4 linked regions of the Homo sapiens genome follow. The protein of the gene in region 1 purifies or fractionates together with the protein of each later gene. This does not show direct contact. Each region holds a gene or a part of one and is shown on either strand. Other genes may lie near its edges.

Evidence for each region.
Region 2: the proteins of CPNE3 (region 1) and EIF5B purify together in Homo sapiens (affinity purification with mass spectrometry, with the first as the bait; one large-scale study listed by BioGRID). This does not show direct contact.
Region 3: the proteins of CPNE3 (region 1) and TRAP1 purify together in Homo sapiens (affinity purification with mass spectrometry, with the first as the bait; one large-scale study listed by BioGRID). This does not show direct contact.
Region 4: the proteins of CPNE3 (region 1) and GPI purify together in Homo sapiens (affinity purification with mass spectrometry, with the first as the bait; one large-scale study listed by BioGRID). This does not show direct contact.

What each region holds. Positions count from the first base shown.
Region 1 is NC_000008.11:86,546,614-86,554,069, reverse strand, and holds part of CPNE3 (copine-3), read right to left. Parts: coding exon 7,389-7,456; intron 6,360-7,388; coding exon 6,300-6,359; intron 5,770-6,299; coding exon 5,636-5,769; intron 3,025-5,635; coding exon 2,970-3,024; intron 2,888-2,969; coding exon 2,836-2,887; intron 1-2,835. UniProt on the Homo sapiens protein: Calcium-dependent phospholipid-binding protein that plays a role in ERBB2-mediated tumor cell migration in response to growth factor heregulin stimulation.
Region 2 is NC_000002.12:99,394,914-99,401,588, reverse strand, and holds the end of EIF5B (eukaryotic translation initiation factor 5B), read right to left. Parts: intron 4,830-6,675; coding exon 4,691-4,829; intron 2,842-4,690; coding exon 2,680-2,841; intron 2,283-2,679; coding exon 2,175-2,282; 3' UTR 349-2,174; downstream 1-348. Other genes in the region: DNA repair protein REV1, read left to right, coding at 237-348. UniProt on the Homo sapiens protein: Plays a role in translation initiation.
Region 3 is NC_000016.10:3,659,997-3,667,452, forward strand, and holds part of TRAP1 (heat shock protein 75 kDa, mitochondrial isoform 1 precursor), read right to left. Parts: intron 6,123-7,456; coding exon 5,975-6,122; intron 5,466-5,974; exon of another isoform or gene 4,464-5,465; coding exon 4,278-4,463; exon of another isoform or gene 3,567-4,277; coding exon 3,428-3,566; exon of another isoform or gene 2,972-3,427; coding exon 2,886-2,971; exon of another isoform or gene 2,650-2,885; intron 2,137-2,649; coding exon 1,991-2,136; intron 1-1,990.
Region 4 is NC_000019.10:34,394,642-34,401,956, reverse strand, and holds part of GPI (glucose-6-phosphate isomerase), read right to left. Parts: intron 5,657-7,315; coding exon 5,527-5,656; intron 5,377-5,526; coding exon 5,300-5,376; intron 2,751-5,299; coding exon 2,622-2,750; intron 2,402-2,621; coding exon 2,326-2,401; intron 2,239-2,325; coding exon 2,172-2,238; intron 2,057-2,171; coding exon 1,921-2,056; 3' UTR 1-1,920. UniProt on the Homo sapiens protein: In the cytoplasm, catalyzes the conversion of glucose-6-phosphate to fructose-6-phosphate, the second step in glycolysis, and the reverse reaction during gluconeogenesis.

The sequences.
Region 1 (7,456 bases):
TCAGCCTGAGTCCCAATATAAGAAACATGGAGAGAACTCCAGCCTAGCTGCATGTAAAATGAGCAAGAAATAAACTGTTGTCATTAAAGCCACTGAGATTTAGAGATTGTTTATTACAACAGCACAACCCAGTGAAAGCTGACTGACATTGCTGGTCAAAGCACTGCTGATGAAACTTGTATCCCACACAAGCACCTGTTGAATCTGCCCTTAATATCACAGCATTTAGGATGCAGACAGGATAACAGAAATTCTAAAGAATTTCCAACAATACTTGCTGAGATCATCACAGATACTTGCCACAAAAAAAAAAAAAAAAACTTAATGTAAATCAAAACAGGTCTCTTGCTTTTAAAATGTCTAAGAGAACACAGATCAACAAAAAGGAGAAGCATATACAGTCATGTGTCACTTACCAATGGGGATAAATTCTGAGAAATGCATCGTTAGGTGATTTCATCATCGTATGAACATCATAGAGTATACTTACACAAACCTAGATGGTATAGCCTATTACTCCTAGGTTAAAAACCTGTACTGCATATTGCTATGCTGAATAATGTAGGCAATTATAGCAACTGTACCTTTTCTATGTCTTTACAGTAAAAATAAAATATTAAAATCTTATGGGCCTACTGTCATACATGTGGTCTGTCCTTGACTAAAATGTCATTTTTAGTGCATGACCATACTTGGCTTGAAAGCTTCAGGAAACCAACTCTCTTCTCTTAAAATGTAAGAGTTCCAATAAACTCCTCTTAGTTTCTTTGAATTTAGGAACAGGTAGTCTTATGAACAACCTTTGAGAACATAACTAATTCATAGGCAGGGGTGATTTTACATGCAGAAGGTCCATGTTACTAGTAGTCAGTCCAGTAGTAACAAAGGTATAAATAATTCATTTAGGGCTGGGCACGGTGGCTCATGCCTATAATCTCAGCACTTCGGGAGGCAGAGGCAGGTAGATCACAAGAGGTCAGCAGTTCTAGACCAGCCTGGCCAACATGGTGAAACCCTGTCTTTACTAAAAATACAAAAATTAGCCGAGCGTGGTGGCAGGCGCCTGTAATCCCAGCTACTCGGTTGTGGGCGGGGGGGGGGGGGGGGCGGGCTGTGGCAGGAGAATTGCTTGAACCCGGGAGGAGGAGGTTGCAGTGAGCCAAGATCGTGCCATTGCACTCCAGCCTGGGGGAAAAGAGCAAGACTTCGTCTCGAAAAAAAAAAAAAAAAAATTAATAATAATAATAATTTCTTCACAAATATCAAGAGCTTTCAATTCCTTAATTAAAACTGAATTATGCCAAAACCCTTTCTATGCATCAAAGTAACAAGTTATTTCTAAGGCATATTATTTCTAAGGCAACTAGATTCAATGATTAGTTAGGAAAAGGGGATTAAACTTCCTTGCCTTAAAATAAGGCTCTGAGCTTTTTGCTGTATAGTATCTCCTTTGTTTAAAACCAAACTGATGCTTTTTCCAGAGTGTAAACCACTTGGTGAACAGCCCAAGGATGGGCTTACATTACTCACAGAGTGACTGAACTTCTAAAATGAATTATCATATGATATGTCATCCATATTCATTTACAATAAATGAAAGCTAATTACAACAAATTCTAAAGATTATCCACTTTCATTATAAAAATGAAGCATATTTCTTAAAAAGAATAACATTCCCAGTTTCAAATGGCTAGGGAATAAAAGAGGTCACAACCAGTCACTGAAAGTGCCTCAAAGAACACTGAATTAGTATGGAAAAAGTGTTCTGGGGAAAAGAACAAAACCATATTGCAAACGGCCGCCACAAAAATTGTTCATGCTCTTCCACCTTATGAATATTGTTTAGGAAGAAAAGGAAAAAACATTTTCTTCTGTTAGAAAGCTATACATTTGTAATTGTCAAAAGGACCCTTTGCAGAAAATTAGAGTATTGTCTAGAATTTTAAATTATGCCTCTGCTCCCACACCTACCTTGCCTTCTCCAAACTCTTTAGTCTGATATATAATTTAGTGGAAGAGCTGGCATTTCTGGCTGATTGCTCAATGTGGTAAAAAAAAGAAGCAGCACTTGGATACTTGAGGTATAAGGAAAAAAGTAAAACGTGGCTGGGCATGGTGGCTCACGCCTCTAATCCCAGTACTTTGGGAGGCCAAGGCAGAAGGCAGGAAGATAGCTTGAGGTCAAGAGTTCAAGACCAGCCTGGCCAACATAGCGAGACCTTGTCTCTATTTTTTTAAATAAATAAAAGAAAAAAGTGAAATGAAAGACAAATATTTGCCTCCTGCTCTCTACACAGAGGAAAGCTGCTATAGAAGATCAATTCTTTGTTCCTTTTGCCCATCCCAGCTACTTATAGAATACTGTGTGAGCAACAAGTATTAGATGCTGGATACTTTTCTCTTCGTAGAGAGTGACTACCACTCTGAAAAAAGCTTCAAAAGATCTGTATATCAAATTACTCATTTTATTGAAGGTTTGTTTTTAAATAAATTTATATGTAAAAATACTTTTAATATATGATATTTTTACTGATCTACTCCAAAGATTGAGAATGTTTTTGTCCTATTAAAGTTCTTAAGGTAGGAGGATTTAGCTTACCACCTTCATCATCATAATACTGATTTGCCCCGTAATTACCATTACCACCCTAACCACCAACCTGGTGCAATTCTTCTACCTTATACAACAGAAAGTTAAATATGTAAGAAAATGAAACCTAGAGATGAAATTTGAGTAGTTTTAATCACAAGAAAAAAAACAAAGAACAAAGAACAAAATAACAAAGACTAGTGAGCCTTTCCATTTGAAGTCTTCATGTTTATTTTTTAACTTACCATTGCAGTAGGGATTGGATGGGTTGAAGTTCATTGGAAATTCATGTGATACCTGTCAAAGATGGACAAAGGACTGATGAGGGCTGGGCTGCTTTTCTAGGAGGCAAAGCTTTAAAATAGAGATTTCCTCTTACCTGCCACTGAGGAGGTATCTGAGCGCCAAAACCAAAAGCTGGAAACATCTTATCACTAAAAAGAAAAAAATATTTAATAAAATACTGTTTTTTCCAAAATAAAAAGCTTTATCTTTGCCCACAATAAAATCCATATGAGCTCATTTCAAAAAGTATGAAGATAAAACAAAGATTACCTATATTAACTGCCAAAGAGAATCAATGTTAATATTTGACAACTCTCATCCTAAATATTTTTCTGTGCACTGAGGAAGAAAAATGTTTCTTTCTATAGATTTTGTAGAAATGGAGTTTACATGCATGTTTTATAACCTACTCTGTTCTACTTAAATCTTGTGTATCATTTCAGTGATCAAATGAGTAAATAAATACATGAAGCCCTGAAAATCACAATTCTTTTTTTACTAATTGATGGCAAACTCATTTGGTAGCAAAACCTGACCTCAGATGATCAGAGGTTATTGGTAGCTTTTATTTATGCCACTTAATACAAACATTCATACATTAGGGAGAGGGACAGTGGACCGAATATATAACATCACATGAATAGCCACTGAGTATCCCACAAAATGGATATCCTCCCCCAGATGTCTGATAGCCAATGTTCCGCCATTATAAAACACCATAATGAACATAATTTTTCTACGAGGAATATTCCTTTCATATTTATTCTTAACAGTTAGTTTTGCACTGAAGATAGAGCCTATGCCATGTCAGAAATATTTCCCCCAGGCTGAGGTGGGAGGATTGCTTGGGTCCAGGAAGTGGAGGCTGCAGTGAACTGTGACTGCACCACTGTACTCCAGCCTGGGTGACAGAGCGAGACCCTTTCTCAAAAGAAAGAAAGACACATTTTTCCCCAGTTTGTAGTCTGTCTTCAACTTTGTTTAAAGCATCTTTCTTTTCATAGTTTTTAATATTAATGAATATGAACACAAAAAAGCTGCATGATTTTTGCCTTTGCTCTCTTGCTTAAAGGTTTTCCTCACTACAAGATTATAAACAATTCACATACACTTTCTTCTAAAACTTTAAAGTTTGCTTTTGACATTAAACTTCTAACTCATCTGGAAAGTGTTTTGAAGTAGGATATGAAGCAGGAATTGCTGCTCTCCGGCAATATCCATTCTCTCCTTTAATAATAGAACACCTGAGCTAGAGACTGCTCTTCCTAGCTTCTCTGGCCTGGATGTGATCAGATGGCTGGGATCTAGAGATGGAGATGTGAGTAGAAGTGATTTGCCAGCCACTTCTGAATCATGCCCCTAAAAGGGAATGCACATTCACTCCCTGGTCCCTTTCTTCTCTTCCCCCTGGCTGGAGAAGATGAGAACCAGAGCTATGGAACCCCGGAGGGAAGCTGTGAATTGAGAACAGCAGAACTCCCCTATCAGTTCTTAACTATTATATTTACCCCTAGCAATGTGAAGTGAAATAAACCTCTATTTTGTCAAAGCCACTTTGTTTTTGGGTGTCTATTTCAGCAGTCTGGTCTGTACTCTAATTTATACAGAATAATATCCTAAAACATGCAAGTATGAGTCAGGGATCCAAATTCAATTCTTGTCCAGTTTGACAGCTTTTACAACCCCCTCCCCTAAATTCACTTATATGCATGGGTCTATTTCTGGACTGTTTGCTTGGTTCCACTGGTCATGTCCTAATTCCATACTCTTAAGATAATTGCAATAATACTTTTAATATCTGCTAGTGAGAAATTATTAATTTTTTAATCCTATGTTATATTTGACCACCTTTCTAAGCTCTCACTACTGTCTAATAAAGTAACTTTCTATATATGTTAAATATATTTAATGATTTTTACCTTAAAACTTACTAGCCTGAAATTGGAATTGCCACCTTACTTTAGATTTCTTTGCATTTGCCTAAAAATTTCACCTCTTTAAATGCTACAGATTAATGAAAAGCCCCATCAATATGTAAATAAAATAATAATAGACAAAAGCAAGTGAAATTTTATTCTGTACTCTTAACGCTACATCAGGAAAAACACTACTAATGCAGATGTTTTCCCTATTGTTTAGTAAACCCTCAATAGGACCTATTTAAATCTTTTCAAAACCTAACCATTGATAACCATTCAGAATATTTCATAGCAATTAGATCTAGTTATCCTTCAGCACTTGTTAAAAGTCACCGTTAAAAAAATAATTTGGCAACTGCCAAGGACATAGATATGCTAAGAAATAGTTTTTATTTCTTAACATAAATAGTATTTAGTATTTATAAATAGTATTTAGTATTTAACATAAATAATATTTAGTATTTATAAACAGTATTTATAAAACATGTCATCTGGGCTTCAATCACTCATACAACTTATGCCTAATGAATAAGCCCCAAGGAAACCAGACTAAAGAAACAAGAGCCTTGCTGACATTCAGTCAGGAAGTAAGTAGCAAACTATATGTAATATAAAGCAAAGTACATGCCATATATGATAACTAATCACAGAAAGATATTAGAGATCTAAGGTAAACAGCAAGATTGCCACAAGGAGAAAAATAGAAGATAAGACGGGGGGATTTTAGGGAGAAAGCATCATCAACCTACCACCTATATCAGAGTGCTAGCCGATGAAACAAACTACCCTTTCTGGGGAATTGTGAAAACATGTATTTTAGTTTTTCCAAAGTCATACTCACGCATCATAATCTTGAATGACCAGTCCCACAGACCAGAGAGCAGTCAAATACTCATTAACGCCATTGGGGCTGATGTAATGAAGGGAGTCTGGAGACCTTGGGTCACCATTGGAGCCAGTGAAGTCCACTCCCACCTGCCAAATAACAATTGCAGCCCTTAGTAAGGAGAAGGCAGGGACACCTGTGCTTGATGTCCAGGAAAACTTCAAGAGATGGGATACAATCATGCATCCTGGCGCCTACTTCCTAACAAATGCCTACCACTATTTCCATAGACAATTAAACAAGTAAAGCCTAAATGTGAAACAACCTGATGCTTCTACTTTTCTAGATGGCTTAAATAATGAATTATTGTATCCATTACTTAAGCTTAAGGGTTGTCTTTTATAAGGTTGTCTCACTAATGCTTTCTAGTCCTTAAATTAGTTCAGGATAACCACTAGTTTGTAGGTTTGTATACATCTGCTTTCTCTCAGGAGGAAGAGATCTCATCAACAAAACTGAGAGCTTCATGATGAGCCCAGACAACCTGCCTGAGGACTCTAAGAGGACTATGCTAAACAGATTGTGAAAATTTCATTACAAAGTCAGTTTTGCAGTGAAAGAAAATATACTGCAACATGGAGGAAAAAGCCTATGCTGAAAAATTCAGTGTGTTACTTACAGTAAAATTCAGCTGACATCCTCCCATTATATAGTCAAGGAATGTGCATTCTACTGTAATCTAAAAATAAGAGAAAACTTAAAATTACAACTCTCCTACTATACAAGAGAAGCAAAAAACTCTTTGGCATATATTTTTAAAAGTCTGTAAATTGAACAGGACATGATATAAACATGGAAATTACCCCTGCATTCAGGTTTAAGATACCCCTTCCCCTATGTGCCATGAATCTGTAAAATTCTGCTTCAAGATAATTGTAGCAATGTTAAGATTAGAATACTAATGGCGAAAGATGAAATACACTCATTTTAAGTTTTAAGATATTAGTAATGAATCCAATATGTTGAGGGCTTTAAAAAGCATAGCAGTCAACATTTTAAAAAACAAAAACTCCATTCCACTTGTTCACCCTAAAAAATCTTGGCTTTTCCCCTTTACTCATAACATTTTATATTGAAAGTATGAAGAGGATAAATGCATTGGGTAAGGTCATTTCCACTAAAGAGCTGAGAAAATACTATGATGCTTTATATTTCCTAAGATAACGAAAAACTTATCCTTGTCCTTTGCAAATAAGTTGTCAAACCTTGGAAACAGGTTACTTGATTTTTTTGTTCTTCCCTACTTGATTCTTTTTGCTAAAGGTGACCAGATGCTCATGTGATTTTCAACTGCCTGAAATTCAAGTATTTGTTTAATATAAACATACTAACAGGAGAACTTGAAATATAATCTCATTATATTATAAGTAGCCAAGGCTTGGGTCGGATGCGGTGGCTCACACCTGTAATCCCAGCACTTTGGGAGGCCAAGGTGGGTGGATCACAAGGTCAGGAGTTCAAGACCAGCCTGGCCAACATGGTGAAACCCTGTCTCCACTAAAAATACAAAAATTAGCCAGGTGTAGTGGTGGGTGCCTGTAATCCCAGCTACCTGGGAGGCTGAGGCAGAGAATTGCTTGAACCCAGGAGGCAGAGGTTGCAGTGAGCCGAGATCACACCACTGCGCTCCAGCCTGGGCAACAGAGCGAGGCTCCAGCTCAAAAAGAATAAATAAATAAATAAAAATAAGTAGCCAAGGCCAACGGACCTCACACTGTTTCACACTGATAACACCTGAATTCTTGTAGCTTTTTTTCTTTTGCCTTTTTTTCTCAT
Region 2 (6,675 bases), on another chromosome or scaffold:
TTTTTGTAGAGACGGGGTTTTACCATGTTGGCCAGGCTGGTCTCAAACTCCTGACCTCAGGTGATCCGCCCTCCTCGGCCTCCCAAAGTGCTGGGATTACAGGCATGAGCCACACCGCACCTGGCCAGGACTTTTTTTTTTTTTTGCCAAAGTCAATTTTTATATATAAAAAGGAATAATTAGTCTTAAGGACCTTTCCTAATTCCTAATGACATTTCTTCTCTCCCCACCTTTAGGCTGATGCAGCAATCGGTGGAATCGGTTTGGAATATGGCATTTGACTTTATTCTTGACAATGTCCAGGTGGTTTTACAACAAACTTATGGAAGCACATTAAAAGTTACATAAATATTACCAGAGAGCCTGATGCTCTCTGATAGCTGTGCCATAAGTGCTTGTGAGGTATTTGCAAAGTGCATGATAGTAATGCTCGGAGTTTTTATAATTTTAAATTTCTTTTAAAGCAAGTGTTTTGTACATTTCTTTTCAAAAAGTGCCAAATTTGTCAGTATTGCATGTAAATAATTGTGTTAATTATTTTACTGTAGCATAGATTCTATTTACAAAATGTTTGTTTATAAAGTTTTATGGATTTTTACAGTGAAGTGTTTACAGTTGTTTAATAAAGAACTGTATGTATATTTTGTACAGGCTCCTTTTTGTGAATCCTTAAAAACTCAACTCTAGGAAGCAACTACTGTTTATTATACTAAAAGGCTGAAAAACCTCCAGGCCAGACTGCTAAGCTCTGAAATTCCTGAGAGGTCTCAGACCGGGATTCTACTTGTTCCAAGAAAGGGTAAAGCTTCTAAACCATCTTATTCTTGTCTCCAAGCATGAACACAGGAGCATGTTAAGAAAATCTTTACTACTTCTTCCATGCGGAGAAATCTACATATTTTGAATTAGAAACACCCTCACACCCACTTGAAGATTTTTTTCCTGGGAACATTATGTCCCGTAGATCAGAGGTGGTGTTGTCTTTTTGCTTCTACTGGCCATTGAGAAACTTTGATGATAAAAAAGAACGGTATAGATTTTTCAAACGTATATAAAATATTTTTATGTTATATGTTATGCCATAACTTTAAAATAAAAATAGTTTAAAATTCTATGCTAGTGGATATTTGGAACTTTTTCCTCAAACAAACACCCCACACTGACTTCAGCAAAACCCTAAAACTAGCTACAGATTACTACTACGAATGAATCATTAAGTTTTGTGTCTGCAACAATTTAGAAGCACTAAGCCCAAATATCAGGAAATGTGTGTATGATGGAATTTTCTAGGACAAAACAGATCAAGATTAAAACAGATCAAGATTAATGTATAAAAATCTCTACTAAAACAGATCAAGATTAAAACAGATCAAGATTAATGTATAAAAATCTCTACTGTTACCAGGTGCTGGCATACAAGGTAGTGTGATGATAGTTTAGTTTGTAAGATAATTCTTGTCCTAGGAGGACAACTTGTGGGAGAGAAGCTACACTAACATGGAAGCCTAACAGAGCTTGCTTACTGGTGGATGTCTGTTTTCTTTATTGGTAGTTTGGTTTAGAATTGTGATGATTACAATGGACTCGTGACTACACAAGCAGTAAAAAGCAGCCAGCTGTGCTTTTACACCATGGTTTCACACAAAGCAGCTAAAGAAATATCAGAATGCCTAATTTTCTATTTTATAAAAGCCCTAAAGGCATATGGCAGAAGAATGCTGGAAAAATCACTGTGGGAAGAATATGCATAAATAAAGAAGTATTTCTTACGTCAAAAAAGTCCCAAGAATCACAAAATCTGCAGAAGCTTGGTTAATCAAATACTGCAGTACTGATTTAATCAGTATAAAATCGAAAGAGCTTTAGATCTGTAATAAAAATCCAAATTTGGGGAAGGGCAAACTTTAAAACAGCAGCCAAGTAGAGAAGGGTTGGGGAAGGGAGAGGTGAGTGAACAGGCACATTGGAACTGTGGGGACATGTAACTGACCACTGTCAAACCAGTGTAAGTTTCTTGGTTTCTCATGGAAAACATTTTATACACCTATTTTTCTTCCTTCCATACTTAAGTCCATCAGTGTCCAAATACGTCTGTTCCATTTTTTGTCTGATTTTTGTTGGGATATTACAACACAGTATTGCATTTACTCCAGTTCCTGCTCCATGTGAAAAAATTAGATGATTTCAAATACTTTCTTCAGCTCCACAATAAGCTGCCAGTCACTCTTCTGCATTTCATCTCTGAACCAGTCTTTGAGTGCATCAATGGACTGCCGGCTGATCTGCAATGCCCGAGGCACAAACAGGGTAAACAGAACATAACAAACGTGCCAAAGAAAGCTGTGGCCCCAGATGCCCGCTCTCACTGTACTAAAAAGCTTAAGCAGAAATAAAAAACAGGGCTTGCCTGCCTAAGGGAGTAGAATTCCAAAATCACATCTGGTTTGCATGTCAGGCACGAGGGGACCTAAAAGTCCTAGCTTTCTCTGTTGGTGCTGCTTTCCTGATAGAGCAACTTCCTCAACAGACAAGGCCCAGCTAGAGGTCAAGCCCTAATGGGGGATCCAGTCCCATCAGATTCTACAATCAAACTGAAGCCCAAGGAGCTACAGGTACAGGTGACCCAAGAAGAGTGATTCCCTGTTGCTTAAAGTGTGCCACTTTTGCTGAAATACTTACCTTACTAACAAGAATATCTGTAGCTTCAAAATGTCTTCCAAACATTTTGGGTGACTCACCAGGGATAGGTTCTATTTTTACACAAACTTCTTGTCCTTTTTTTGCAACATCCACTTGTTTATGGTTTATTTCAATACTTGTTACTATTCCGATGTCAACAAACTATAAAATAAGAACAAATTAAAATGCATGCAGAAGAATTCATGCCAATCACAGGCGCCATGGCTGGATAGCTGAAGTAAGAACTAGAGCAAAAGCCTGTTTTAAAAGTCATGGCAGTGCGATCCTTTCATCACTCACGGTGTAACATTTTGGTAAACTAGGCTGGCACCACCAACACCCTATTCCCTTCATGATGGTTGTAAGAATGACAGGAGATAATGTGCTTTGCAAAACATTCCAAGTGCCCTGTTGACCCAATGTCATTTCCTATTTTTGCTCTACCATTTCACGTGACAGGTGCCGTAATAGGAGGGATCAGCAGGCACAAAGGGTCTGAGTCAGGAATGAGCTTGAAGTGGCTGATGGGAATGAAGTCAGAGTGAGGACCAATCCTGAAATTTTAAGAATGATGGCCTGTGAGCAGATGAGTGATGTGATCTCAGAGTTTGGGGCAAAAAACCCTGACTCCTTTGTGGAGAAAAAGATTCAGGAGAGTAAGAGTGAAAACAGGGAGAGCTCTGGTTGGTTTAGGAGGCCAAAGCCACATAGAAAGTAACACAAATAAATGTCCAGGCTTAGTCCACTGAAATGGTAGAAAAGCAATGACAACTTCTAAGTGCCATTGCCCATTACAAGAACCAGGTTTGGGCCAGGGAAAGTACTAGATGAGGCTGGAACATCTCAACCAGAAAGGAAGATGATGCTCAGACTGCTGTGTGTCAAGGATACAGGAGCCAGTTGAGCTCCTACTGACCACAATAGAAAATCTGAGTATCAAAAGAATAAAGGTAATGGATTATATTAAAAAAAAAAAAACCCACTGAGTCTATGACTCAATAAAAAGGTCAGTGGGAAGAGGTTCTTTGTAAGAAATGGGGGGACAGGTATATCCACAATTTTGCAACCATCTACGTAATAGTTGACTTAGGCAACGCTTGCCAGTGGGTACTAAAGGCACTGGGATAAAGGCTGTTGAGAAACAGGATATCCATTAGGAACTCCAGGTACCAGACAGATTACAGAGTAATTATAAAGGGGCAAGTTTCTAATGGAGATGGTTGGCGTCTAGCACTTTCCCCAGGAAATCAGAGCATCAGCAGCAGTCAGACAGGCTGGGTCATGCAAGAGGCAGGCACACAGGGAAACTGCATGAGTGTCTTTCCAATAATTCTAACCTGTGTCTAGTTGGGAGGGAGAGAAACAGATAAATCCAAATGGAGGAGGGATTTGCAAAACAACAGGGACACTTCAAAAAGAATGGAGGACTGTTCTTGACTGAGGCTCAGCCACAAAACAAGCCCCAGTGCAATGCAGCTTGCAGGGCACTGGGCCAGATTGGTGGGGAGAGTTACCAAAACATCTTTGGAATAACTGGTGAAATAATGTTGAGGGCTGCAAATTATAGGATATTGTTGAAATATTATTAATTTTTCTTAGGTATGCTGACAGAAAGGGAAGGTAAACATGAGTGTTCATTATACTAGTTTTTAAACTTTTCCACAGGCTTGAAACCTTTCAAAATAAAATAAAAGGCAATAATGTAAAGTGCCTTGGAGCCCCAATTAACTGAAGCACTGAGATCAGCACTGAGTCAACACTGACTATGGAGCACTGATATTTACCAATACTGAAGCACAACAGAAGGTGACAGGCTCTGCTTGTTTTAAAGTTACCACATTTTCTTCCTACTGAGGTAAAAACACTGAAACATTTGTTAAGAAGGTGGAGACCACACTAAATACACAGCACAGTACTGTGAACTACAGGCACAAAGCTGTGTTGGTACGACTCTTGGACACTCATTTAGTGCTTTAAGAAATGACCCACAGAATGTACAACTAGAACTTACATTTTTGCTTGGGACACACATGGGTGTCCCCTGTTTCACCTGACCTGCTTCCACCGTCACCCCCATCACTATCGGATCTCGAGAATTAAAAATGTACTGAGGGAGGATTTTTATCTTGCAGGGAAATACTGCTATGTGCCTGAAAGGAAAAAAGAAAAGAATTTTAAGCTTACAGAATCACTTAAACATAAAAAGAAAAACTGCAGCTGAACATCAGGCTTCTCCCATTAGAGGAAAGCAGCTTTCCCCAGCGGCCACAGGAGAGGGGCAGGCAGGGTGCTGCAGCCCAGGGCCACCCCATGCCCAGAGCGCTTCTTCCTTGTTCTTAACCTCCTCCTCCCCATTCTGTTGCTTCCCAAGTCTTTGCTTTCTTCTCTTTTAAAGCCCTACCTCCAAAAGAAGCTGCATCACAGGAGCATTCTGTTCCTAGTCTAAAACACTGAGCTTGGCTGCTGAAGATGTCAGCCACAGTCTGGGGCTTAGAACCTAGGCAGTACCTGGTGACAGGCAGGTCTTCGTTAGGCACATATGTAGGCTACTGGGGGATCACATAGGCATCAGACCGTATTATCACCCTCCTTTTCTCCACCACGTTCCCAAACCATTGATCCAAAAGGCCACTACATAACTACCCTGCTTATTGAGCACACGCTTAAAATGCTTTAAAAGTTTCCAGCAGTCTTGTTAAGTAGAATTCTTCTCACTTCAGGTTTCATGATCTAAAGTGAGCATATACCAGTCTAAATCCTAATATTTACTAGTAAGCTCCACTTAAAAATGTATCCCAAACTACGCCATCACTCCTATCATCACTGTGGTCTGAATCACCTAGACCTCTTGCTTGGACTGTGGGAGCCTCCTGACAGGCTCTTGCCACTGACTTCCTAACAACCCAAGGTCCACATAACAACCCAATTAACCAGTCTGATTGTGAACACACAGCCTTGGCAATGGCTTCTTGCAAAACTCAGAGAAGCTCAATCCCTCCCATGGCCTGTAAGATCCTTGACGATACAGGTCCTGCCACCCTCTCTGACCTCATTTATCACTGTCCCTTCTGGTCACTCTGCCTCGCACTGCTGTTCTCTCTGGACACTCCCCATGTGCCTGTGTGGCTTACTCTGTCTGAAGAGGTGAGATGCCTTCCCAAACCACATCATTAATCACAGTCCCTCCTCTCCTTATCTAGGCCCTTCCCTGCTTTATTTGGTTTTTCAGCACTTCTCAACATGTGTCAATTGTCCTGCAATAAGAGCATGTCCCAGACCAGGCACAGTGGCTTACACCTATAATCCCAGCACTTTGGGAGGCAGAGGCAGGTGGATCACTTGAGCTCAGGAGTTCAAGACCAGCCTGGCCAACATGGCGAAACCCTATCTCTACCAAAAATACAAAAAATTAGCCAGGCATAGTGGTGTGAGCCTGTAGTCTCAACTACTCGGGAGGCCAAGGTGGGAGGATCACTTGAGCCCAGTAGGCAGAGGTTGGGGTGACCCATGATCATGCCACTGTACTGCAGCATGGGTGACAGAACGAGACCCTGTCTCAAAGGGAAAGGAGGAGGGAGGCTGGCCTGGTTCTCTGCTGATGCCTCCTCTACCACTGCAGCAATGTAGGTACTGTGAGTGCTTGAGTGAAAGTTTGGTAGAGGAATGGACTTCTCTCCCACAGAATCTCTTATTTCCCGGTTTTCCTCACTCAAGTTTTGTTACTTCCAATCTATATAATCCCAGATGAGCAACATAAAGTCCCTACATTTAATAACTACGAACCCATTAACAAGACCCAAGTCTGCCAAGATTATTAAACTGAAGTCACAGACAAGACTTGTTTGCATACTGCTGGAATGTCCCCAGTATGTTGGGTTTCTGGTTTGTAACACACCATTTCAGGATGCAGCCTCTGGTAGATGAGTAAATGCCATGATTTTGCTGTTTACAGCCCTTTCTGGAATTCAGTAATTCTCAATCATGTTCATTAACAAA
Region 3 (7,456 bases), on another chromosome or scaffold:
GATTACAGGCGTGAGGCACCGCACCCAACCTAACAGAGGAAACACTTCAAATGCACATCCTCACATTTCTAGTCTACGTAGCTGGAAAAAAAGGACATTCTTAATATGCTAATGTGGAGGTCACCTAGTTACCCTAAGGGAGAAAAGCAAGGCAAGGACCCACTGCACAGCAAGTTCCCCCTTGGAAGCCCACGGGCGCAGCTGCCCACAAATGCACATAATCTCTGCAGAAATACAAAAGCCCTAATGCTGGCTGCACTGGGGACACAGGTAGGAGGAAATTTTCCCCTGTAAGCAGTTTTGAATTCTGAACTATGTGGACAGAACACCAAATTTTAAAACAAATGAAAGTGAAGCTGGCTGGGCACAGTGGCTCTCGCCTGTAATCCCACCACTTTGGGAGGCCAAGGCTGCAGTGAGCTCTGATGGCGCCACTGGTACACTCCAGCCTAGGTGACAGAGCAAGACCCTGTCTCCAAAAGTGAAGTGGCAACAGACAGAAACGAGCACTTCTGCAGCTATCTCACAAAACTAGTTTGCCACCAAAACTAGTTAAAGTGACCTGGTGTCCGCCTCACTGAGCTGCTCCAGCAGAGGCACAGGCATTCTGCATACTGGCGCTGCTGTGCACTGACAGCCATAAGCCAAGTCAGCCTTTCCCCAGGAGTGCCATGGCTAGGAAGATGCATCTCCCTCGCCTCCAGTATAATTTTAAAAGTTATGGTTGTAAAATGACAAAAGAAAAAAACTAGACATGTACTAAAGAACAAAACAAAAACTGGCTGGGGGTGGTAGCCCACACTTGTAATCCCAGCACTTCGGGAGGCTAAGGCAGGTGGATTGTTTGAGGCCAGGAGGTAGAAGTTGCAGTGAGCTGAGATTGCCCCACTGCACTCCAACCTGGGGGACAGAGTGAGACCCTGTCTCAAAAATTAAAATACTACTTAGGCTACATTGTGGGGGGGGTGGTAAGTCTATGGATTTTGATTTCCTTTTTGCTGTTTTCTATTTTTGGTAACATGTTTATGTAACTTCATTTTTTAAAAAATTGCTACATTCAAAATTTCCCCCAAAAAAGAAACTTCATATACAAGTTAGTTCATATACAAGTTAGAAAATGAAATTTTAAAATACCCCATAAGACACATCAAAGAATAATTCTTTAAAAATGGTACCAGAACCCTACAGAGAATGTAAGGTACCAAAGGATGTTAAAGACCTAAATAGATCACATTCATGGGTGCAAAGAAGTGATACTGTAAAAAGAAAGAAACTCAAAAGATACCTAAAGGCAGGTGAAAAGACATTTACAACAGATAAAGGGCATATAAAGAACAACAGGAAGAAACGAGGGAAATCTTACGGCTCAGCCACTGTCAGGGCTGGGGGGTTCTCGGTGCACCCTGGAAGCAGCTCCCACCACCGGGGCCACAGAGAAACCCACACAAGCCCCAGACACGTGGACAAGAATACTCAGAGCAGCCTGGCTCTCCACAACTTCTGACCAAGAACCACCGGAGGCCCAGCAGAGCAGAACGGAGCAGTCTGCTGTGCCGAGGTGGGTTTCTGCAGCGGACATTATTCGGCTATGAAAATGAACTTGTGGCAGCCCCTCTGCATGGGCAACCCTCATGCCAAGTGAGCAACGTGAGACTTCAGCAAACACCAAGATCCACGTACAAAGCTCAAAACAGGCAAAACTGAGCATGTCCAGGACACGCACAGGTGGCAAAGCCATAAAGCAAAACGAGGACATGGTCACAGGCTGGGATGTGGCTAACCTCCCAGGTGACACCTGGGGATGGTAAGGGGCTGGCCAGGTTCCATTTCACATGGGTGCAGCCTAAACTGCATACAGCTCCTTATAGTTACCCACATGTCCACAGGCCTCACGCACTTTTCTTCTGTGTCACATTCCACAACAAAAGAACACCACACACAGGATTCTGGGGAATCCCACAGGCTGGAAGAGCCAGGAGCGTGGCCTCACCTGGGGTTGATCTCCAGCGTGGGCTGCAGGAGCTGTGCGCGCTCCTCCTGGGTCTTGGCCAGCTGCTGCATGCGCAGGAAGTGGCGGGCAGCCCCCATCTCCAGCACGGTGACCATGGCAGGGTGGGTGTCCAGTCGGAGGGTCACCTGTGAGCAAAGCCCGGGGTTGAGGGTGATAGAGGTTCCCAATGTGAGAGGGCTGGCAGGATCTTACCAGGGGTGAAGGTCACCCAGACCACGAGGTAGCAGGCGGGGTCTCAAGGACTCCCCTGGACCAGCGCTGCTCCCTCCCCATTACCCACTAACTTGTGGGCCCTGAGCTGATGCCCCACGCAAAGATACTGTGCCCGAGGGGCTCCACCACCCTGGTGCCCCGCTGCTGCCTCCAGGAGCTGCCCGAATCCATCGTCCTCTGCTCCATGCCAGCCCACCCTGCATGAGGCCCCTTCCTCCAAGTGACCATGCATGGGACGCTCATTTCTCACTCTGAGCTAGACAGGTTGGTGGGGGGAGTCTTAGCTCTCTGAAGCCCACCCAAAACCCCCGACTAAGCACCCAAGTGAGCATGTGAGCTCCTGAGGGCTGGGGTAGCATGTCCCTTGTTTGGAACCCCCACGTCCTCAGCCATTGCAGCTCCCACTCAGGATGCTGGTTTTTCAGTTCTCAGTTCACACCTGCTCTGGAGCAGGGCTGGGAGAAAGACACGGCCTTCCTGCCTCAGCGGCACTCCCGAGCAACACGTGCCGAGCAGGGACCCACAGGGTCTCCACCTGACACCAAGGGCTTCTGCTGCTGCTGGAAGGACACCCAACGGGCCAGGTACTGGGAGCCACCAGCTGGCCAGCCTGTTAGGGACACTGCGGCCAAGTGGTGGTCCATCCCCGGGAAAGCCTCACCTTCACGTTGGTGACACGCGACCCCAGCACATTTCTCATCCAGGCCATGAGCTCCTCCGTCTCCTTCTCTGATAGGCACTCGGCGGCTGCGGAAGAGCAGGCGACAGGGAGCTCAGGCCTGCATCCCAACTCCCCGGCTTCCATGGGGGCCACGCAGCATGCTTCCAGCTCCCACCTCCTCTCCCACCAGGATGGAGACACAAGCTAGCAAGATGCTTTTCATCTAAAAGTAAAACCTCAAAGGATGCTTCAGGTTGCCTGAGGCCCATACAACTTGGTTAGGGCTTTAAAAAAATACACAGCCTCTCAAGAAGCTGGGCCAGCTCCAGAAGCCACCGTGGCAGGAGCACTGGACAGACCCCTGATATCTAAACCAGGAGGCACCTTCCTCCAGTCACCAGGGTGCTCCCACAAGGCTCTTCTCGGGGGTGGCTGAGCCCAGGTCAACTGACGAAAACCCAAAGGAAGCCCTCGCTGCGGGGCAGGAGAGGCGTGCGGGGAGTGGAAACCAGCCCCACGCCTAGAGAGCAGGGGATGCCGACCTGGGGACCTGTCCTCAAACTTCTCCTCCTTGTAGTGATCCACGACTATGTCCGTCTCCACAGAGATCAGCTTCTTCTTGTCAAACTCACGAAGGTGCAGCAGGGTGAGCTCATCAAACTGCTCAAAGCAGAAGAGAACCTGCAGGTGGCCAAGAGCAGCTCCATCAGACCCCGGGGGCCTCCAGCCACCACAGAAGAAAGGATGAGGGCGGCAGGAGGGCTGGGGGAGCCAAGCGGGCCACACTGGGGAACACCGGGGCAGTTGGGGTTCCTAGGCCTGCATGACAGTTACTACGACACCTGGGTCTAAGGAAGGCTCTGACTGCCTTCAAGGCAGAAGCACTCCACGCATAAAGAAATCCACATGTGGCTGAGTGCAGTGGCTCACGCCTGTAATCCCAGCACTTTGGGAGGCCAAAGCAGGCAGATCATGAGGTCAGGAGTTCGAGACCAACATGGTGAAATGCCGTCTCTATTAAAAATACAAAAATTTGCTGGGTGTGGTGGTGTGCACCTGTAGTCCCAGCTACTCAGGAGGCTGAGGCAGGAGAATGACCTGAACCCAGGAGGCGGAAGTTGCAGTGAGCCGAGATCGCACCACTGCACTCTAGCCTGGGCGAGAGAGCAAGACTCCATCTCAAAAAAACAAAAAACAAACAAAAAAAACCACATGTGACCTCCAAGTGGGAAACAGCCGTCACAGTCGGTCCGGCCTCTGTGCCCGTGACCCTGACCCACTGTGCAGCCCTGCCCGGAGTCTTGGGCAGGTTCACCCAGCACAGAGCTGAGAAGGTCAAGACCCTCCCCAGGTTGCAGCCCCCGGAGCCCGCCCCACCCACCGCTCACCCACCTCTGTGTCTTTCTTCTTCATGGCCTCATAGTAGGGTGAGTGCTCTGCCAGGTGACGGTTGGGGGCGCACAGGTAGTAGATGTTGCGGGTGCCGGCCCGCATGCGGCTGGCGTATTCTGAGAGGCTGGTTAGCTGCCCGGAGGGCAGCGCCGAGGACTCGTAGCGCAGCAGCTTTGCTATGTCCTCCTAGAAGGGACGGGGCAGGTCACCACTTATTCCAGGCCCATGGGCTCAATGTTGCCCAACTAACTGGGCGCAAACCCTCCGATGCCCATGGCCTCCTGGCACTCCAGGCTGGCCCTGACCCGAGGGACGGTAGTGGACTCGGGGGTTGTCCGAGAGCAGGCCTTGCTCTGCCCATCAGGCCCCTTTTGGGAGCTCTGGGGGCTTAGGAAGCACCTCCTGCCCCAGGTGGCCCAGGGGCTCTCCAGGGAGCTACGCGCACCACGCCCTGGGAGGGGACCCCACCCAACAGCAGAGCCCGGCCTGGACCCAGCGTCTTCCCTCTGCCCTCAGTGACAGAGTCAGTCTCTGGTGGGCACACGGACACGGGTGAAGTCCACGGTTCCCGGCCCTCCTCACAGCTGGCTATGGCAGAGACTGGCTTTGCCCAGTGGGTTTCAGTGGGATTTGGAGAAGGGCCCTTAGGGGAGGGGTTTGCCCTCCTCCCCATCAGCTGAACGCAGCTGTGACCTCTAGAGCTCATGGGAGCTGCAGCTGGAAGGACGCAGGGGGAAAACAGAAAGAGGGAAAAGCAAGGAGCTGGACACCCAACCAGCAGGGCCCAGGCCACCCCTGCACACATGGTGGGTCTGCATTGATAAGACATGTCACACGTGCACACCTACAAAGACCTAGAAATGTCTCTGACTCTTACCTGTGTGCTGTTAACTCAAATGAAGATAAAGGAGAATGAAGAGGCCTGTGTCAGAAGCTGCCGAAGTCGGCAAACAACCAGAACACGGCCTCCTTGGGACCCCACACACGTGGTCACCCTCCTCCTGCTGCTGGGGAGAAGGGACACCAGCACGGGATGGGCTCCTGGGATGAAATGTTCTGGGGTTACAGTGGAGGCAGCCACACCACACTGTGAATGCACTAAATGCCACTGAATTTTACGTGTTAAAAGGTGAATTCTGTGAATCTGATGCTATGTAAGTTGTATCTCAATAAAAAATGGACAAAAAATGTTTATGGAACAAATGTTTCGTTTTTCAGCCATCCACTATTGGATTAACTGAACGACTGGCCCCTGTAGCATAGTATTTGGAGACTGATATCCAGTACATGATGAATAGTCCCTCAACAGACACTGAGACCACCCACTTCCCCACCCACGGGATCGGAGTCCTTGGCTTGTCCCACCTGTCTGTGGCTCCCCAGCCCCCAACATCCTCTGAGGGGAGACAGTGTGTGCACGCCCTCTTCCTGCCACTCCCTGGGCTGCACCTTCACACAGCAGTGAGGCTGAGCCCTTCAGAGCACAGCACAGCACTGGTGGGAGGGTAAGGATGTGCCTGGAAGGTGCCAGAGGCCCAGAAGCCTGGCCTTCCATTTCCTGACCCTGGTGGCAGCAGCAGCAGCAGCCAGGGTACCCAGCTGCACCGTCGCCACATCAGGGGACACCTCCACCAGCTTCCTCAGCAGCCCCAGGGACAAGGTGGCCCAGAAAAAGGCCTGGAACACAGCTCCTATACCTTGACCTCCTGCTCGGTGGCGGTCACAATGCCCTCCCGCATGAACAGGCCGTAATCTTCAAAAAACTTTGCATACTTCTCAGCATCTTTTTTACTCTGGTCAATGAAGAATTTGATCAGCCTCTGCTGTAAAACGTCCCGGAGTTTCCTACAGAAAAGAAATGCATTTAATACATACAAGCAGCCTCTATGAAATACAAATGGCCAGAGGGTACGAAAAAATGTTCAGCCCCGCTAAGAATCAAAGAAGTGAAAACAACAAGGTACCGTTATTGGCCAAACTGAAAAAGACTGAGCAGAAAGACAGAAACCCTGGGCAGTGGCCGGACAGGAGGCAGCAGGGTGGAGGGCAGACACCCCCTGGAGGCAGTAGGAGAACCGATGCCCCCAGAGACAAGATACCCACGCCCGGAAAACCCTTCCAACCTTTGAGCCAGTTGTTCCAATTATAGGAACTGCACCTTAGGAAACATGTGAGCACACCAAGATTTATGTACCAGGATTTTCACTGTGGCACATAAAATATAACAATTATGAACAACCTCATGTTCAAGAATATAGGCTAAAATTATGTAATGCTAAATGGCCATAAAAAAAAAAAACTGCATCTTTTAATAATCCTCAATGACATGAGAAAGTTAGCTGTGTTGAAAGAAAACCCAGAAAAATCCCAATGTGGGTAAATTACAGTACGTCTATAGATACAGGCAAAGAATGCACATTCTACATGTACATAACAATTTTCCATCATTAGGAGCAGCACTGTATATACTATATATGTACACTGTAATTTGGGATTTATACTGAATATATGTATACTCTAATTTTTCAAAATTGGGATTTTAGGGATCAGGATATTTACTGCAGCATTACATAATGGCCTAAAATTAGGAACAACTTTATCACTGGGACTAGGGATATTTTTATTTTCTTCTTAATATTTAGTCTTTCCTTTAAGCAGGTAAATTACAATGTATTTCAATAATCCAGAGCATGGGAACAACACTCTCTCGAGTTCATTTAGAGCCTTTCCTCCCACACTCCATCCCCAGTGACTCAGTCCTTCAGCCACAGGGCAGAATGGGACAGGACATGCCTTCGTGCCTGGGAGCGGGGGGACAGTAGCCCAGGATGCGGTGCAGAGCCCAGGGAAGGTGTCTATGCAGGGCCATGGTTGGGAAGAGCCTGGTATGGGTGTCAGAGCCCAAGAACCCCAGAGAAGGGTGTCCAGGCTGGGGGCGTGACCAGCCCACCGTGAAGAGTCAGAGCCCAAGTAGGTGACAGGGACACCCGCAGAAGAGGGCAGTGGCAATGGTAGATTGGTTACATGGAGGGGGATTGGTCAAATGGGTAACCGTGCTAAGAATAATCAACGGGGCATGGTGGCTCCTGCCTGTAATCGCACCACTTTGGGAGGCTGAGGCGGGCGGATCACCAGAGGTCAGGAGTTTGAGACCAGCCTGGTCAACATGGTAAGCCCCC
Region 4 (7,315 bases), on another chromosome or scaffold:
GCACCTGTAGTCCCAGCTACTCGGGAGGCTGAGGCAGGAGAATGGCGTGAAGCCGGGAGGTGGAGCTTGCAGTGAGCCGAGATCACACCACTGCACTCCAGCCTGGGCAACAAAGCAAGACTCTCAAAAAAGAAAAAAATTTTTTTTTAAATGAGCTGGGTGTACTGGCATGCATCTGCGGACCCAGCTACTTGGAAGGCTGAGGTGAGAAGATCACCTTAGCCTGGGAATTTGAGGCTTCAGTCAGCTATGATTGTATCACTGCAGTCCAGCCTGGGCAACAAAGACCCTGTCTCTAAGAAAAAAAAATTTTGAATAGGCTGGGTGTGGCGGCTCACGCCTGTAATCCCAGCACTGTGGGAGGCTGAGGTGGGAGATCTCTTGAGCCCTGGAATTCAAGACCAGTCTAGTCTGGGAAACACAGCAAGACCCGCCTTGCTGGGCGCGGTGGCTCACGCCTGTAATCCCAGCACTTTGGGAGGCTGAGGCGGGCGGATCACGAGGTCAGGAGATCGAGACCATCCTGACTAACACAGTGAGACACTGTCTCTGCTAAAAAAATATATAAAAAATTAGCCGGGCATGGTGGCAGGTGCCTGTACTCCCAGCTACACAGGAGTCTGAGGCAGGAGAATGGCGTGAACCTGGGAGGCGGAGCTTGCAATGAGCTGAGACCGTGCTACTGCACTCCAGCTTGGGCGACAGAGCGAGACTCCGTCTCAAAAAAAAAAAAGACCCGTCTCTCTACAAAAAATGAAAAAACTAGCAGGGCATAGTGGTACAACCTGTAGTCTCAACTACTTGGGAGGCTGAGGCAAGAGGATTACTGGCTGCAGTGAGCTGTGATCATGCCACTGCACTCCAGTCTGGGCAATGGAACAAGACCCTGTCTCAAAAAAAAAAAAAAGTTGTCAAAAAAAAAAAAAAAATGGGCCGGGCGTGGTGGCTCATACCTGTAATCCCAGCACTGTGGGAGGCTGAGGCGGGCAGATCACCTGAGGTCAGGAGTTCAAGACCAGCCTGCCCAACATGGTAAAACCCCTTCACTACTAAAAATACAAAAATTAGCTGGGTATGGTGGTGTGCGCCGTGTAATCCCAGCTACTCGGGAGGCTGAGGCAGGAGAATAGCTTGAACCCGGGAGGCGGAGGTTGCAGTGAGCCGAGATTGCACCACTGCACTCCAGTCTGGGTGACAGAGCGAGACTCAAAAAAAAAAAATTCCAGTTTTCAATATCTGCCTTTTAAAGCAAAAGAACTACCTGAGCGTCTTGCCAGGAGATGGCAGTCATCCTCGGTCTTGTCCAGGAATTCACCCGAAACAAACATAATCTCAATGCAGTTTTTAGAACCATCGAGTGAACAGAGTATCCAATTTCTGCAGTCACAGAGGTGAGGAGTGGAAAACAGTCTTGGGATTTGGTGACACAGGCCAAGTTGCCGTCCTGACTGATTGTGCCCCCACCCCACTATTGTCTTCTCAGGGCACCTTGCTCCACTCTAGACCCGCTCACCACTTAGTGTTAAGTGTCCGCAGAGGCACAGCCTGCGTCCTGCTGAGCGCTCCTGCCCTCTGCTACATAAAGCACCATCACAGGAAAAAAAAAATCAGAGGCTGAGCCTACAACCTCCTCCGTGGCATCTTTATTTTTCTACATGGGATGTGAACAACGTGAACATGGGTCAGAAAAGTCAGCTGCACAAAAACACTTCAGCCAATTCTAACACAGAGGGAGCATAGACATGGAGGGGCTGGGGGTTAGGCTGGGGGAGACCAGCCTTCCCTGCTAAGGGCTCGTGGTCCAAGCCCACAACCAGAGGGTGCTCTGGGTGGTGTCCAGGAACATGCAGTGCCGGCTCCGGGGAGGAGGGACGAGAAGAGAAAGGGGAGTCACAGAGGAGGCTGCAGATGAGCACGAGTTTATTGGACTCTGGCCTCGCGCTGCTGCTTGATGAAGTTGATGAGCCCATTGGTAGAAGCGTCGTGAGAGGTCACTTGAGCACTGCCATCAAGCTCAGGCTCTATTTTCTTAGCCAGCTGCTTTCCCAGCTCCACTCTGCCAAGAAGGGAAGGGAAGGGAAGAGTGGTATGAGGAAGGCTCTAACGTTGCTACTGAAATCCCTGAGCCGACACAAAGGTATTCCCGGCCCTCCCCTAAGTGAGCAACTCACCCCCACTGGTCAAAGCTGTTGATGTCCCAGATGATGCCCTGAACGAAGATCTTGTGCTCATACATGGCTGCAGAAGTGACAGACAGGGCACATCAGGGCTCCACAAGCCCATTCCAACCTACCCCAAGCCAGGACCTTTCCCCTACTCACTCACCGACCAAGGCTCCAAGCATGAATGGTGTGAGCTTGGTGAACACAATAGAGTTGGTTGGGCGATTTCCTTCAAAGACCTGCAGAAAACACCAAGGAATGTCTCCAAGAGAGTCCTGATCCCTAAACCCCTTGAAGGGAAGCACACCCTGCCCCAGAGGCTGAGACGTGCAGGTCTGTGAGGACAGGCCCTCCCATTCTGTAGGACAAGCCAGGCACGCCCCAAGCCCCTGCCTGGTGCCATAGCTTCACACCTCCAACTCCAGCATGCACCCCAAAGCCAAATGCAGAAGTGCTGACCTTATGTGGCAGCAGCCTCTCAAGGTCCTCTGGACTCTTGCCCGCAGCCTGGAGCTCCTTTCGGGCCTCCTCCGTCGATTTTCCCCTCATCAGGGCCTCTGTCTGGGCCAAGAAGTTGGCCAGGAGGATCTGATGAGCGAGACATCAGTTATGCTTGAGAGCACTGTCTGGGCTTCAGGCAGAGGGACAAGACCGCCTGGTACTTCTCAGCAGGGGTCAGTCCCAGCCTGGGTCACTCGCTGTACAGCTCAGTTGGAGCGAGGGGGACACATCCGATGACACCACAAGGCAGGGAACAGTGATAACTGCTCTTTAAGAACTACACACCAGTGGCCAGGCGCGGTGGCTCACGCCTGTAATCCCGACACTTTGGGAGGCCGAGGCGGATGGACCACGAGGTCAGGAGCTCGAGACCAGCCTGACCAACATGGTGAAACCCGTCTCTACTAAAAATACCAAAAAAAAATTTAGCTGGGCATGGTGGCGCATGCCTGTCATCAGGCAGGAGGCTGAGGCAGGAGAATCACCTGAACCTGGGAGGCAGAGGGTGCAGTGAGCCAAGATCACGCCACTGCACTCCAGCCTGGGCGACAGACCTAGACTCCATCTCAAAAAAAAAAAAAGAACTACACACCACTTGCTAGGGGTCCTGCTCACAATTTTACCAACATCTATCTTTTAAGATCCTAAGAAGGTAGCTGGGCGTGGTGGTGTGCAACTGTAATTCCAGCTACTCCGGAGGCTTAAGCACGAGAATCACTTGAACCCAGGAGGCTGAGGTTGCAGTGAGTCAAGGTCACACTACTGCACTCCAGCCGGGGCAACAAAGTGAAACGGTGTCTCGAAAAAAAAATAATACTAAGATCCTAAGGAGGAAAGGCATCATCGCCCTGTTCTAGTAGAGCCTTGGGTTCCACAAGTCCACAGTGCTGGATCACAGAACTATAGACAGGAACAATCAGAATTCAATCCAGCTCACTGACTCCCAAGATTGTGCTACCGTAACCCTGTGCTGCTCTGCACACCTGAGACAAAGCACAGTAAATTCTCTGAAGGAGTTCGAGGGCAGCTTGGGCAACATACTGAGACTCCATCTCTACAAAAAATAAAAATAAAAAAATCAGCTGGGTGTGGTGGCGTGTGCCTGTTCCCAGCTACTCAGGAGGCTGAGGTAGGAGGATTGCTTGAGCCCAGGAGGGTGAGGCTGCAGAGAGCCTGATTGTGCCACTGCACCCCAGCCTGGGCAACAGAGCAAGACTCTGTCTCTTTAAAAAAAAAAAAAAACTTAGCCAGGCATGTTGTACATCTGTGGTCCCAGCTACTCAGGAGGCTGAGATAAAAGGATTGCTTGAGCCCAGGAGTTCAAGGCTGTAGTGAGCTATGATTGGGCCAGTGCACTCCAGCCTCAGCAACAGAGTGACATGCTATCTCTAAAATAAAATAAATAAATAAAATAAACAAAAGGGGAGATTTTCCTGGATTATCTAGTAGCCCCAATCTAATCACACTGGCCCTTAAAAGTAAAAGAGGGCCAGGCACGGTAGCTCATGCCTGTAATCCCAAAACTTTGGGAGGCCGAGGCAGGAGAATCACTTGAGCCCAGGAGTTGGAGACCAGCCTAGGCAACATAGTGAAATCTGGCCTCTACAAAAAGTTTAACAGTTAGCCAGGCTGTTAGTGCCTGTAAGTGCCTGTAAGTGCCTGTTAGTGCCTGTAAGTCTCAGCTATTTGAGGGGCCGAGGCAGGAAGACTGCTTGAGCCTGGGACGTTGAGAATACAGTGAACTGTGATCATGCCACTGTAAGTCCAGCCTAGACAACACAGCATGACACTGTCACTTAGGGAACAAAAGCAAAATGTAGAAGAGGAAGGTAAACAAGTCAGAGAGATGCAACAGAAGTGGCAAGACAGAATCAAAGCTTCAGAGAAGGATTTAACCTGCCATTGCTGGTTCTGCAGTGAAGAGGCCCACAAGCTAGAGGATGCAGGTGACCTCTGAGAATCTGAGAACGACCTTCAGCCCACAGCAAGGAAGCTGGACTTCAGTTCCACAACCATAGAGAAATGAATTCTGCCAACCACCTGACAAGCAGGTCAAAGGCTTTTCCCCTAAGGTCTCCAGAAAGAAACACAGTCCTGATGACACCTTGATTTCAGCCTGCAAGACTCTAAGCAGAGACACATCAGGGCCTGCTGGATATTTGAGCTTCAGAAACTCTTCAGATAGCCCAGGAAGGTGGCTCATGCCTATAATCCCAGCACTTAGGGAGGCCGAGGCAGGTAGATTACTTGAGGTCATGAGTTCAAGACCAGCCTGGCCAACATAGTGAAACCCCCCCTTTACCAAAACTACAAAAATTAGCTGGCCATGGTGGTGAGTGCCAGTAGTCCCAGCTACTTGGGAGGCTGAGGCATAAGAATCACTTGAGGCCGGGAGGGGAAGGTTGCAGTGAGCCAAGATCGTGCCACTGCACTCCAGCCTGGGCGACAGAGCAAGACTCTGTCCCCCCTCCCCACCCCACAAAAGAAGAGTGTTGTTTTAAGCCTCCATGTTTGTTATCATTTGTTACGGCAGGAATAGAAAACTAACGTGATTGCCAACCAATGCACCAGGTTTTCAGAGGTCTGGGTGCAATGTGAGCCAGACCCCCCAGATGGGGCCAGATGGGGGCTCTTACCTTGTGATGCAGACCCTTCCGTATGGGGTGCTGGGTCTGGACCGGGATGAGGAAGTCACAGGGTATCATCTTGGTGCCTGTGAAGGGCACTGTGGTCACCCACATGACCCCAGCCCATGGGAGCTAGCCATATGGCCTAGAGGAGGGCACTGACCTAAGTGAGATATCTCTTCTGGAAGATCCTTTCCCTCCCCCAACATCACCCTTCCCAGGCCACAGGGGCCTACCTTGGTGGATGAGCTGGTAAAAAGCATGCTGGCCATTGGTCCCTGGCTCCCCCCACACAATGGGGCCTGTCTGGTGGTCCACACGGGTTCCAGATTTGGTGATGTATTTCCCATTGGACTCCATGTCGCCCTGGAAAAGGAACAGAAACCCAGTTCTTGGCAAAATGAAAGAACATTTAAAAAGAAAGAAAGAGGCTGAGCGCAGTGGCTCAAGCCTGTAATTCCAGCACTTTGGGAGGCCAAGGCAGGCGGATCACCTGAGGTTGGAAGTTTGAGACCAGCCTGATTAACATGGAGAAACCCTGTCTCTACTAAAAATACAAAATTAGCCAGGTGTGATGGCGCATGCCTGTAATCCCAGCTGCTTGGGAGGCTGAGGCAGGAGAATCGCTTGAACCCGGGAGGCGGAGGTTGTGGTGAGCCGAGATCATGCCACTGCACTCCAGACTGGGCAACAAGAGCAAAACTCCAACTCAAAAAAAAAGAAAAAAAAAAAAAAAGGAAAAGAAAGGAAAAGAAAGAAAAAAAACCCAACCCTCTTCCTGCAAGTCTTGATCCTTCACACACTGTACGCAAATCCTGCTCCTTCCTGCACCATGCCAAAGTCCTGCCCAGATGCTCCAGGCAGACCCACCCTGCCCTGACACCGTGAGGTGGACCTGCACACGTGTCCACAGGCACGATCCCCTTCCTCCCCACACCAGTGAGGACACAGCCTCCCAACCTTTCCTGCTTAAGCCACTGTGCAGGAAGGACTCATGCCCAGGAAAAGGTGGGTCTGGAGGTCAGGCAAGGACCTCCCTAAAGACAAAATCGGTCACAAAATCAGCTCATTTCTTAAGGGAGAGCAGGCTGGGGTCCAGAGTGCACAGCTTCTTTTTTTCCCAAAGAGACAGAGTCTCACTCTGTCACTCAGGCTGGAGTACAGTGGTAGAATCATTGCTCACTGAAGCCTCGACCTCTTGGGCTCAAGCAAGCCTCTTGCCTCAGCCTCCCAAGTAGCTGGGACTATAGGTGCCGCACCACCATGCCTGGCTACTGTTAGTTTTTGTGGGTTTTTTTTGTAGAGACCGGGCCTCACTACGTTGCCCAGGCTGGTCTTGAACTCCTGGGCTCAAGCAATTCCCCCCAGCCTCTGCCTCCCAAGGTGCTGGGATTGCAGGCATCAGCCACCATGCCTGGCTAAGAGTACAGCCTTTGAGGGCTGTCACCACAACTAAATGCTAGGCTTTGGGTACCCACCTGGGCCCTGGTCATGGCAACCCTCACCAAGGCAGCTGGGATTTGGGGAACCTTGGCCTCTCCTTCAGTCACAGGATTTGCTTCCAGGTGTTGGTGAAGCCTTCTGTACCTGCCCAGAGCAACTCAAGAGCTGCTGGACAGGGACTGGCTTTGTACTAAACAAAAGCAAGGATAGGGTTGGGCATGGTGGCTCATGCCTGTAATCCCAGCACTTTGGGAGGCCAAGGCAGGTGGATCGCTTGAGGCCAGGAGTTCGAAACCAGCCTGGGCAACATAGTGAAACCCCGTTTCCACTAAAAATACAAAAATTAGCCAGGCAAGGTGGTGCATGCCTGCAATCCCAGCTACTCGGGAGGCTGAGGCACAGGAATTGCTTGAACTCAGGAAGCGGAGGTTGCAATGAGCCGAGATCGCGCCACTGCACTCCTGCCTGGGAAACAGAGTGAGAATCTGTTCAAAAAAAAAAAAGCAGGGACAGGTGTGGAAAAGCTTTCTGGGACATAATGTGACTAGGAGAGGGCCTGCTAAGCCTCTCGGGGGGCTCTGG